Regions from separate parts of the Homo sapiens genome. Here region 2 is linked to region 1. The links come from fine-mapping of genetic effects on gene expression. A gene starts in region 1. The other region holds a variant in brackets. All regions are shown on one strand. Distances are between the middles of the regions. Region 1 holds the start of MYEOV (myeloma overexpressed). Region 2 has its middle 30 kb from the start of MYEOV.

Region 1 (5,376 bases):
GTAGCTACCTCATGGAGTCATTCTGAGGATTAAATGAGGCTGGGCATATAAACCACTTGGCACACAGGACGTCCTCAACAAGTGAGGATGATGATGAGGAGGAGGAGGAGGAGGTGGTGGAGGAGGAGAGGAGAAGCACCTGACACTGGGGGTGGGTGCATAGTGGGCCCCACCTGGCCAGTCCTCCTAACTCCCATGCGCCACCCCCCCAGGGCCTCAACAGTCACAACAGTCAGCCAGGACCCAGCCACCCGCAGAGGCAGGCCCCAGGTGGAGCAGTGAGGGGTGGGGTGCCGGTGGAGGGTCAGGCATGCTCTTCTTCCCCTTTCATAGTCAGGGCAGCTCGATTCTGCCAGGGTCATGCAGAGTGCCCCGGCACCGGCCAGAAGTCCTCGCCCAGGTGAGCGCAGAGCCACATCCATTCGCGCCCACATAATTTCCATGGAGAGCCCATGCCGCCCATGCACCTCCTCAGGGCACGAGCTAATGGCCTGCTCAACGCCCACTCTAAAGGCTTCTCCCAGGTGAGCAACGCCCACCACCCTTGCAGACTGACTCCCAGAATTCCTGTTCCCAGTGCCACACAGAGTGCCTTGTGGTGCATCTGTGACCCTCCTGGCCCGGGACACGTCCACGTCTTCTGCCTCCTGGCTGAGCCCCGCACCTGTCTGGGCACCCTTGTCTCCCTTGTTTCTCTCCCGGTCACCAGCTCCAGCAGCAAACCACAGAGACACAAATGCTCCTCTCACCGCAACACGCAGGGCCTGGGAGAGACAGAGGCGGCCCCGGGATCTGCCGGCTTTGGAGCCCTCCACGAAGTGTCCAGCCTGCCGGGTGAACATGAGCAACGAGTCCCTGTCCCCAAGGGGGACAGACTACAGACAAGAAAACCGATGAATAAATCAGACATCAGCAGGTGGCATTCACCCACCCAAGAGAAGAGGTTACTGGGGTCAGGGAAGTGTCGGCACCTGGTGGAGGTGGAAGGTCAGGAAGGACACACCACGGAGACAATGACACCAGGAGGGAGACTGTTCCAGGCAGAGGCAACAGCGAGTGCAGAGACCTATCGGGAGAGCTGGGGTGTATGTGACGCAGATTCTGAGGGCCATGAGCCGAGGGAAGGAGCCAGACGCTGTCCTAAGTGCCAGGGGAAGTTGTTAGAGGTGTTAAGCGTGGCATGACGTGGCTGGATTTAGGGTCTGAGATGAACTTTCCTGCTCCTGAATGGACTCTGAGGAGAAGGAAGATACTACCATCCGTAATCCACCCCGGGAAGGCACTGACCTCCTTGACCATGGGGAGGATGAGAGGCCGCCGCTCTGTGCCTGGGTCCCCATGGCCTCTAGGGTCCCTTCACGTTTTCACCTCATGATCCTGGAAGCTGGGACCTGCCCAAATCCACCGGGTGGCCCCAGCCTCCCCATCTCTGGGGCAGGGGGTGGGCAGCCTTCTCCTCCTGGTTTATAGCCACAGATGACTCCAGGCACAGTGGTCCTCAACCGCCTCTAGGGACCATGGGGACGGCTGCCCTCTGTGTGTGACGGTGGCTGGGCAGAAGCCAGCTGGGCTGTCGTGGGTAGGGCCTGGAGGCCTCTGGCTGTATGGTGGTCTAGCTTTGGCACCACCTTGGGGGGCTCCGGGTAGGAGGTGTCCACCAGAGGGGACCTGGGCAGCTCAGCAGAGGCTTGGTCACTCCCGAGCCGTCTGTGGGTCCCACTGGTCTGTACCCTCAACCCCACTGACCTGCACTGGTCATGCCCAGCTCTCACAGGATGATGGCCCCAGCCTTGTAATGAGTCACCTGCTGCCCTCCTGCCCCTCCAGCTGGTCCCCCACCCAGCAGCCACAGGGCTTTCCTTAAAACATAAGAAAGACCCTGCTTCTTACCTGCTCAGATCCCACCAAGAACCGGCCACCTCACTCCAGATAAACTCCAGACTCTTCACTGAGCCCAAAGGCAACGAGCAGAAGTGTCCAGAAATCACACAGAGCTCAGCAGGTGGTGAGGCACCTGGACCCGAGTCACCCAGCAGCTGAACAGGCCATCCCTGAGGCCATGCACGCCCCGGCCCTGCAGGTGTGACGGCCGAGGCTTCCACGACGGGGGGTGAGTGGGAGCTAATATGGCTGGTGAAAGCACTGGGTTCAGTGGGGATGGCATCTCCCGCCCTCTGTCCAAGGTGGGGAAAAAGTCAGCTTCAGGTGAGGGAGACCCTGGACGCCTGGCTTTGGGCTGATTCCCCACTCACTTGGCCTCTCCCAAGCATACTTTCCTGCTTTGTAGGGATGTGGGTTCGCGGGACAGTAACAGGAGAATCAAGGCAAGAACTCAGAGGGGGATAGCCAAGGTAGGCGGAGCTGCCTGGTGGGTGGGACTAACCCAGGTGGGTGGGGCTGCTTGTGAGTGGGGCTAGCCCAGGTGGGTGGGGCTGCCTGGTGGGCAGGGCTTTCTTCCCCGTCAACATTTCCCTCTCTCGGTTAAGGCCAGGGCAGAGCCCACACATGGGTGTGCCCAACCTTAAGGCCTGCCCTGGGTGAGTTAAGACTCCCCAGCTCACCTAGGTCCTACCTGAGGGGAACCTACACGGCCAACCTCCTCAAGGATCCTGAAGCCACCCAGAAGACAGTGGGGCTAGGGTGCCATTCATTCATTCATTTATTCATTCACCTATTCATTTATTTACTCGCTTCACCACCCTTTCCTGGGTAATATTAAGAATAACAGTGGGCCTAGGAATATAGAACATTCTTAGGGGTTTCTTGCAGGCCAGGCACCCTAAGAAAAAGTTATGTAACCCACGTGGCCTCGCTGTGAGGGGGACGACTGCTGTCCTCACTTAATAGATGAGGAGCTGAGCCATGGAGGCCTCACAGCTGGGCAGCTGGGGGTGGACCCCATAGACTGGAGGGGGATGGGCAGGGGCAAGGAGTTCTGCTGGCCCCAGGCCTCTTGTACACATCTTGGGAAGTACTAAAAATGAGTACTTGCTCAAGTCCCTCTCTTCATTGAGCACAGGGAGCTCTTGGCCCTTCCCTCCTCCTCCCTTTACCCTCACCGCCCAATTCCACACGGGTGTACTGAGCACTTGCTAAGGGCCAAGACCAGCACTAGGTGGAGCACACAGTAGGAACCCAAGGCAGCCCTCCCTGCCCAGCTCTCCAGGACACTGTCGTCAATGCCAGCGGGAAGCATAGAGAGGCCAGGGAAAGACGGGCAGTCAGGAGGAAGGAGCCAGCGGAGGGGAGAGAGGGCCGGCAGCTCAGTGCACCTGGACCGTGGTGGATGCTGGACTATGACCAGAGACAGGGCTGCAGCCCAGAGCTAGCCCCAGACCCACAGGGCCTCAGGGGGCTTCACAGGCTTTGTCAGGGGTTTGGACTTTCTCCCGAGGGCTGGGGACCCTGCAAGTTGCAGAAACTGGGCTATATTTGGCATTTTAGAAGCCTCCCCCAGCTGTAGTGGAGGGGAATTGGAGGGAGTGGGAGAGGAGGTTCCCATTCTCACTCAGGTGGGAGATGGTGGTGGGATGGAGGGTGACCCTGATTGATAGGACTCAGGGACAAATTAAAGGTGAGGGCCAGGGAGAGGGTTATCCAGACAGCTCCCAGGAAGATGGCAGTGGGATGGAGGGTGACCCTGATGGGACTCAGGGACAAATTAAAGGTGAGGGCCAGGGAGAGGGTTATCCAGACAGCTCCCAGGAAGATGGTGACACCAGTGAGGTGGGGAGATAGGATGGCATTTGGTTCCCACTGAGCTGGAGATGCCTGTACAAAGCTTCTAAGATACCCAAGGCAGAATCTGCAGCTCCTGCAAAGACAAGAGCTCTGCTCTGCCTCCAGGGAATCAGGGGAGGTCTCCCCAGTGCCCTACTGGGACCTCCAGAGACCCTATGCGAGCCTCCCCCAACCCAACCACCAGCCCATCAGCGCCACCTACCGGCTGCTCAGGGCAGGCACTCAGCAACTTGCTGAGGGCAGATCCTGATGTGTCCCCGTTTTACAGATGAGGAAACTGAGGCCAGGAGACAAGATGACGCCTGTTTGAGGTTACGTAGAGGTGGAGGTGGCATAAGACCTCAGTTCTTCCTGGCAGATCCTCTCCAAAGAGCCCCGTCTGAGAGCAGATGGAAGGAGGTGGTGTCAGGAGATACCTTATCTTACTTTTGTCTGCTGTCAGCATTCCAACAACCCTAGATTATTTTGGCACCCCGCAGTGTCACTCAGTCTCACCATAGCCTCACTCTAATTATCAAAGCTCATCTTTTGGGCTGATATCTGCTTCTGGGACTCCCAGTAGCCCACCTGGGTCCTGCTGGGGAGGACTGTAGAAATCTGACTGCCCCAGGTTGATTTTCTCCCTCTGTCTTCAACATTCAGATTGCCAGCCCACCTGTTAAATCATGATGAGTTGGTGATGGTGATGGTGATGGTGATGATAGTGATGATGGTGATAATGATGGCGTTGATGATGGTGATGATAATGGTGATGATGGTGGTGATGGTGATGGTGATGATGGTAAGGATGATAATGGTGATGATGATGGTGGTGATGATGGTGATGACGGTGATGGTGATGATGGTGGTGATAATGATGGTGATGACGGTGATGGTGATGAAAGTGGTGATGATGGTGGTGATGATGGTGAGGATGATAATGGTGATGATGGTGGTGGTGGTGATAGTGATGATGATGATGGTGAACATGGTGAGGATGATAATGGTGATGATGGTGGTGGTGATGATGGTGATGATGGTGGTTATGATGATGGTGATCATGATGGTGAAGATGATAATGATGATGATGGTGGTGGTAATGATGGTGATGATGGTGGTCTGATGATAATGTTGGTGATGATGGTGATGATGGTGGTGATGATGATGGTGATGGTGATGATGGTGGTGATAATGATGGTGATGGTGATGGTGATGATGGTGATGATGGTAATGATGATGATGGTGATGATGGTAATGGTGATGACGGTAATGATGATGATGCTGGTGATGATGATGATGATGGTGGTGATGATGATAATGGTGAGGATAACTTGTACTGAACATGCACCACATGTCAGTAGTTTTCCCACACTATTTCATTTAATCCTCATGACAACTTTATGGCTAGGACTACTGTTATCCCCATTTTACAGAGGAGGAAACTAAAGTGTACAGTGGCTCAGTCACATAGCAAGTTAGCAGTGGAACCTAGGGGCACCCAGGCAGTTGCACCAAGACCTGCTCCTAACATTACCCTATACTGCTTTTGGCTCAGCCTACAGAGCTGTCTTTGTGACCCCTTCTCTGACACTCCTCCTCTGAGCCAAAGGGCAGCTCCTCCCATCATCCATATCAGTCTGACTGCTCTTTCGCAGT
Region 2 (5,376 bases), 30 kb after region 1:
ACATTGTCCTGGCTTGAAAAGTTCGTGCCCCAACCCTGCCCAGGCACACACACCCTGTTCACCTGCGATGGGCACCCCAGGCAGCACCTCCACGAGAAACAGAGGCCAGAGCCCCCTTTATCTCCTCCTCCCTAACAAGACTGCCCAGGCAACTGACCTTGAGGCCCACATGGAGGCAAACAGTCCTGGCAATTATCTTCCAGGGGCGTGGGCAATTAATTGAAAATCTGAGGCTGGCAAACTTCCATGCCCGCCTGGTGGAGAAGGCAGCCCCCTCCCTCCTCCCTCACATGAGGTCGGGAAGACGAGGGGATGGCCAGACTTGGGCTCCTGAGCAAGCAGCAGCTGTGTGGGCAGGACCTGAGGGGCTCAGTGCAAAGTGAAAATGCAGGACGCCTTGTTCAAAGTTATTAAAGAGCATCTAGATGGTGACGGCAGGGCCGGGCACAGTGGCTCATGCCTATAATCCCAGCACTTTGGGAGGTCAAGGCGAGTGGATCACCTGGGGTCAGGAGTTCAAGACCAGCCTGGTCAACATGGCAAAACCCTGTCTCTACTAAAAATACAAAACAAATTAGCCGGGCATGGTGGTGCACACCTGTAATCCCAGCTACCTGGGAGGCTGAGGCAGGAGAATCACTTGAACTCGGGAGGTGGAGGTTGCAGTGAGTCGAAATCGCACCACTGCACTCCAGCCTGGGCAACAGAGTGAGACTCTGTCTCAAAAAAAAAAAAAAAAGAAAAGAAAAGAAAGAAAGAAAGATAGATGGTGGTAGCAGAGCTTTGAACCCTGAGAGAGCCCCACTGACCCAGGGGCTGGTGCAGCTACACAGGTCACTTGCCCGAGAGGCTGGCCTGGCACTGGGCACTTAGCAAAATCCAGGATAAGATCCCTCATCATTTGCACGACCCATGAAACCCCACGTCACTGAGCCCCAGCTGTGGTCTAGCCTCTTGTCCCTCTTCCCTGCCCTCCCAGGTCCCCACCACCCACAGCTTGCCTGTCACTTCTTCAGAGGGTCCTTCCCTGGCTGCCCAGGGCTGATCCCTCCCTCTCTTCTCCATCCTTTCTAGAGGGTGACGTCACACGTGTGTGTGATTGTTCACTGCAGTGCTGGCCCCACTGTGGTGTGCTTGATAAACACATATTGGGGGTGAGAATGGGGAGCCCCAACTTTGTTACCTGCGGGACCCTTACTCTGTGTTCTGAGCTCCTCAGCTGAGGCTCCTGCAGGGCCTGGAGACCCTCGGCTGGTCACTGTCATTATATACCAGCCTGCCCCTCATCCCAGCCCTCAGTCGTGGCTGTGAGCTCTAGAACAGGGTCACGGGGCCTTGCTTTGGAGGCCCCAAGGCACCCAGTGCCGGGTTACATATAGTAGGCATACAGTAGGCACTCAGCAGTACTGAGAGTCCCTGCACTGCATTCTCTGGGCCTCAGAGCCATGGGGCCAGTGAGGGACATGGGCAGCAGAGCAAGAGACAGGGCACGTAAACATCCTGCACATCTGCCCCTGGCTTCTGGCTGTGTGCACCTACACTCTGTCTGTGAGCTCTTCCTCGTGAGACTGCAGGTTATGCTGGCATCCAGACCATTCCCACACAGCAGGGTCTCTCTGGCTGCCTGGTGTCTACAGATAGGGCACATTCCCTCCCAGCCACCCCAGCAAGGAAGACAGTGACCTTGCTCCTCCCACCCAAAGCAGATACACGCTGGAGGGGAGCAGCGGCCAGGGGAGGGTTGAAGGCCATGCTCTGGTGTAGCCGCTCCCTCCCCAGGGCCCAGGGCAGGCCAAATCTTGGGTCTTGGGTGGCATTCCCTGTAGATGCTTCCTTGTTCCCTCCCTCCTTACTGCCAACAACCCCTGCCTCCCTCAGCCAGGCCCAACCAGGGAAGCTAGTGATTCAGCACCCTTAGGAGCCTCCTAGTCACCTCCTTGATGCCAGGTGTGGGGCATTTGGGGCTCGGTTCTCTTCAGACCCTTCAGACCCTTCTGATCCTTCTGGTCCTTTGCAAAACACAGCCCCAGGGTTGAAGGGCAAAGGCGCCGCATCTGCCCTGTTATTGTTCCGTTCTTTCTACTCAGGAGGTGTGGGGAGGCCTCTGTCACAGGGTCTGGGGCCTCACATGGCCACACACGGCCTCAAAGAGGGCTGAGGACCCAGGGGGTCACAGAGCAGCCAAAAGTCCTGGGACACCTGCAAGGACGGAGCCTCACGTTCTGGCAAACCCCTCAGGCTTGTCCTGGTGCCCCACAGACTCCATTGCCAAAAGGGCCAGCATGAGATGGAATAAGGGCTACATCAGGGGCATATTCCATGACTGGGACACAGGGCAGGGGTTCTGCTGGCACTGAGGGAACCCACCCAGGAGATGACTTCTGAGCTGGGATTCAGAGCATGAGTGCAACATTTAGGGGAGGGCTGAGTACATGCTATGGCCCAGTGCAGGTGGGAGGGTGCAGTAGGGCAGGAGGAAACACAGAGGTGCAAAATGCCCTGGGCTTGGGAAGCAGGACAGCCTGCTCCGCACATGACAGAAATATCTTAGCTCCCAGACAAGAATTCAGAGTGATCTTGGAAAGCAGCCAGCCCAGTCTCTTCATGGTGGGGGCTGTGG[G/A]GACGGGTGTCGGGGGTGGGGGCAGTGACAGACTTGAGGTCACACAGCTGGTCAGGGAGGAAGCCAGGGCTTACCCAGGCCAGGAGTGCCCTGGTCTGGGCCCTGCCCTCAAGTTCGGGGCACCTAATGAATTTCTTCTGCTTCCTTGTAACTCCAGAAGAGCAACTGAGGTCTAGAGGATGACATCATCAGAGTCATATCAGCTACACGGAGACACAGCCCAGAGCAGGAAAAGGGTACTGGACTACTGCTTTCAGAACCTAGAGTGGGAAATGATTCTCCATCATGGCCCTGGATGTTGAGTTGTCATTGTCTGTTTACACATCTGTCTTCCCACCAGACTCTGAGCAGGATGTAGCAGGTGCTCAGTGAGTGTGGATGGATGGGTGAGTGGATGGATGGATGGATGGATGGATGGATGGATGGATGGATGGATGGATGGATAGATGGACAGATGAATGGACAGACAGATGGATGGAAGGATGGATGGATGGATGGATGGATGGATGGATGGGTGGGTGGATGGTTGGATGGATGGATGGATGGATGGATGGATGGATGGATGGATGGATGGATAGATGGACGGATGGATGGATGGATGGATGGATGGATGGATGGATGGACAGATGGATGGATGGACAGACACGGTGGGTGGATGGACAGATGGGTGGACAGATGAATGGATGGACAGATGGATGGACGGACGGATGGATGGATGGATGGATGCACGGATGGACAGACAGGTGGACAGACGAATGGACAGATAGATAGATGGAAGGATGGATGGGTGGAAGGATGGGTGGGTGGATGGATGGATGGATGGACAGATGAGTGGACAGATGAATGGATGGACAGATGGATGGATGGATGGACAGACAGAAGGATGGATGGGTGGATGGATGGATGGATGGATGGATGGACAGACGGATGAATGGGTGGATGGATGGATGGATGGAGGGATGGATTGATGGATGGATCAATGGATAGACAGAGGGATGGATGGATGGATGGATGGATGGATGGATCATCCATCTGCTAAACTGCCAAAGTGTTTTCCAATGTGGCTGTACCATTTTGCCTTCCCACCAACAGTGTACAAGGGTTCTGGTTTCTCCACATCCTCACCAATACTTGTTATTTACTTGTGTTGACAGTGAAGAGAGAGGTGTTCTTCTCACTCGCATCTCAGGCCAGGTGAGGGGGTCCTCAGAAGCATCTCTGAGGGTCTGCAGGAGATTTTAGAGTTTTGGAGGATGCAGAGCCTGGTGCTGACCCCTGCCTGCACTGCCTAAATGAGGGGTGGCCAGAGCTGCCCTCGGGGTGGCCATCTTCAGGCATGGAGGGGAAAGTGAGTCATGGTGGACAGCCATGAAAAGAAGCCATGAGTGGGTCATCTTGAAAGGACATTTCCTATGAGGGTGAGAGACCACCAGGAGCCACCTGAGGCCCTCCCTAGAGAGGAGCCCAGGATGGGAGCAGTCACAGGCCCTTAGCTGAAGGCACCTGGCCAGGGCCAGAGACTCATGCTAGGGGTTCCCAATGGGGAAAGGCCCAAAGCCAGACATCAAAGGCACACGCCAGAGGAGAAACTCCAAGCCTCATGGGGGAAGAAGGAAAAAGGAAGAATGCAGCAGAAACCACAGCCCAGGCCCTCCCCATGACAGCTGCCCACCCTAGCAGGAGCCGTGGAGTGGGGAAGAGGGTGTACATGGGATAAGAGACTGAAGCTCTGGCCGGGCGCTGTGGCTCATGCCTGTAATCCCAGCACTTTGGGAGGTTAAGGCAGGTGGATCACGAGGTCAGGAGTTCAAGACCAGACTGGCCAAGATGGTGAAACCCCATCTCTACTAAAAATACAAAAAATTAGCTGGGCATGGTGGCACGTGCCTGTAATCCCAGCTACTCCAGAGGCTGAGGCAGAGAATTGCTTAAACCTGGAGGGGCAGAGGTTGCAGTGAGCCGAGATCGTGCCACTGCACTCCAGCCTGGGCGACAGTGCGTGACTACGTCTCAAAAAAAAAAAAAAAAAAAAAAAAAGACTGAAGCTCTGACTTAGACTGGACTGGACTTTCCATTTACTGAGCATGAGACTGTTTGTTAATCCATGAAGGTGTTGAGGAGAGCCACGAATCTGCCCCACCAACCACGTGGGCAGGATAGAGGCCCAGCATTGAAGGCCTGGAAAAAAAAAGAAAAGTGATCTCATGGATTTCCACCCCGAAGATCAGAGGTAGAAATCTCCACCCTGAGATCATTGGAAAAATTGCCACTGCCCCGTCTTCTGGTGGGATTGGGGCCACCCAGTATCTAGAACACATTTGGTGTGAGGAGTGGACCATGATACAGAGTCAGGACCCATCCTGGAGGCCCAGCCCTCCAGGCACAGGCAGAAGCAGACCCGAAGATCCCATCCTCCCAGGTTCCAGGCTGCCCTCTCATTTAACATTGCAGCTGGGTCCCAGAGACCATGCTGGTGGCGAGATGTGAATGTGATCCCTGTGTTTGTGAATAATCCCTCAAGGTCAGCCAGAAACCAGAGAACAATCTCCTCCTTTGTAGGGGGTGCAGGAGATGGGGCAGGAGACTGGCCTGTAGACATAATCAGCAAAAGTGGAGGGGTCCAGGAATGCCAGCCGCATCCTCAAATACCCCTCATACCTCTTCAAGTTGCCCCAGCCAATGCTGTTGTCATTTGGTACTTTAAGTCTTAAAAGAGACACAGGAGTTCTAGACAGGCTACCAGTTTCTGTAAGAAG

The links. PIP is the estimated chance that this variant, and not a neighbour inherited with it, causes the effect. A credible set is the group of variants that fine-mapping cannot tell apart.
Region 2: its variant is the best candidate, but not a certain one, in a credible set for the expression of MYEOV in lymphoblastoid cells (GEUVADIS, PIP 0.75).

What each region holds. Positions count from the first base shown.
Region 1 is chr11:69,291,091-69,296,466 of GRCh38, reverse strand. MYEOV (myeloma overexpressed) reads right to left here and starts at 2,312. Exons shown (of 3, transcript NM_001293291.2): 1 at 1,891-2,312; 2 at 972-1,234; 3 at 1-875. The coding sequence starts at 1,112. The coding sequence ends at 75. RefSeq lists an enhancer at 3,190-3,741.
Region 2 is chr11:69,261,051-69,266,426 of GRCh38, reverse strand. No RefSeq gene overlaps it. Among named protein-coding and RNA genes, the nearest start is that of MYEOV, 30 kb to the left of the region's middle. The variant G/A (reference allele first, on the strand shown) is at 2,621.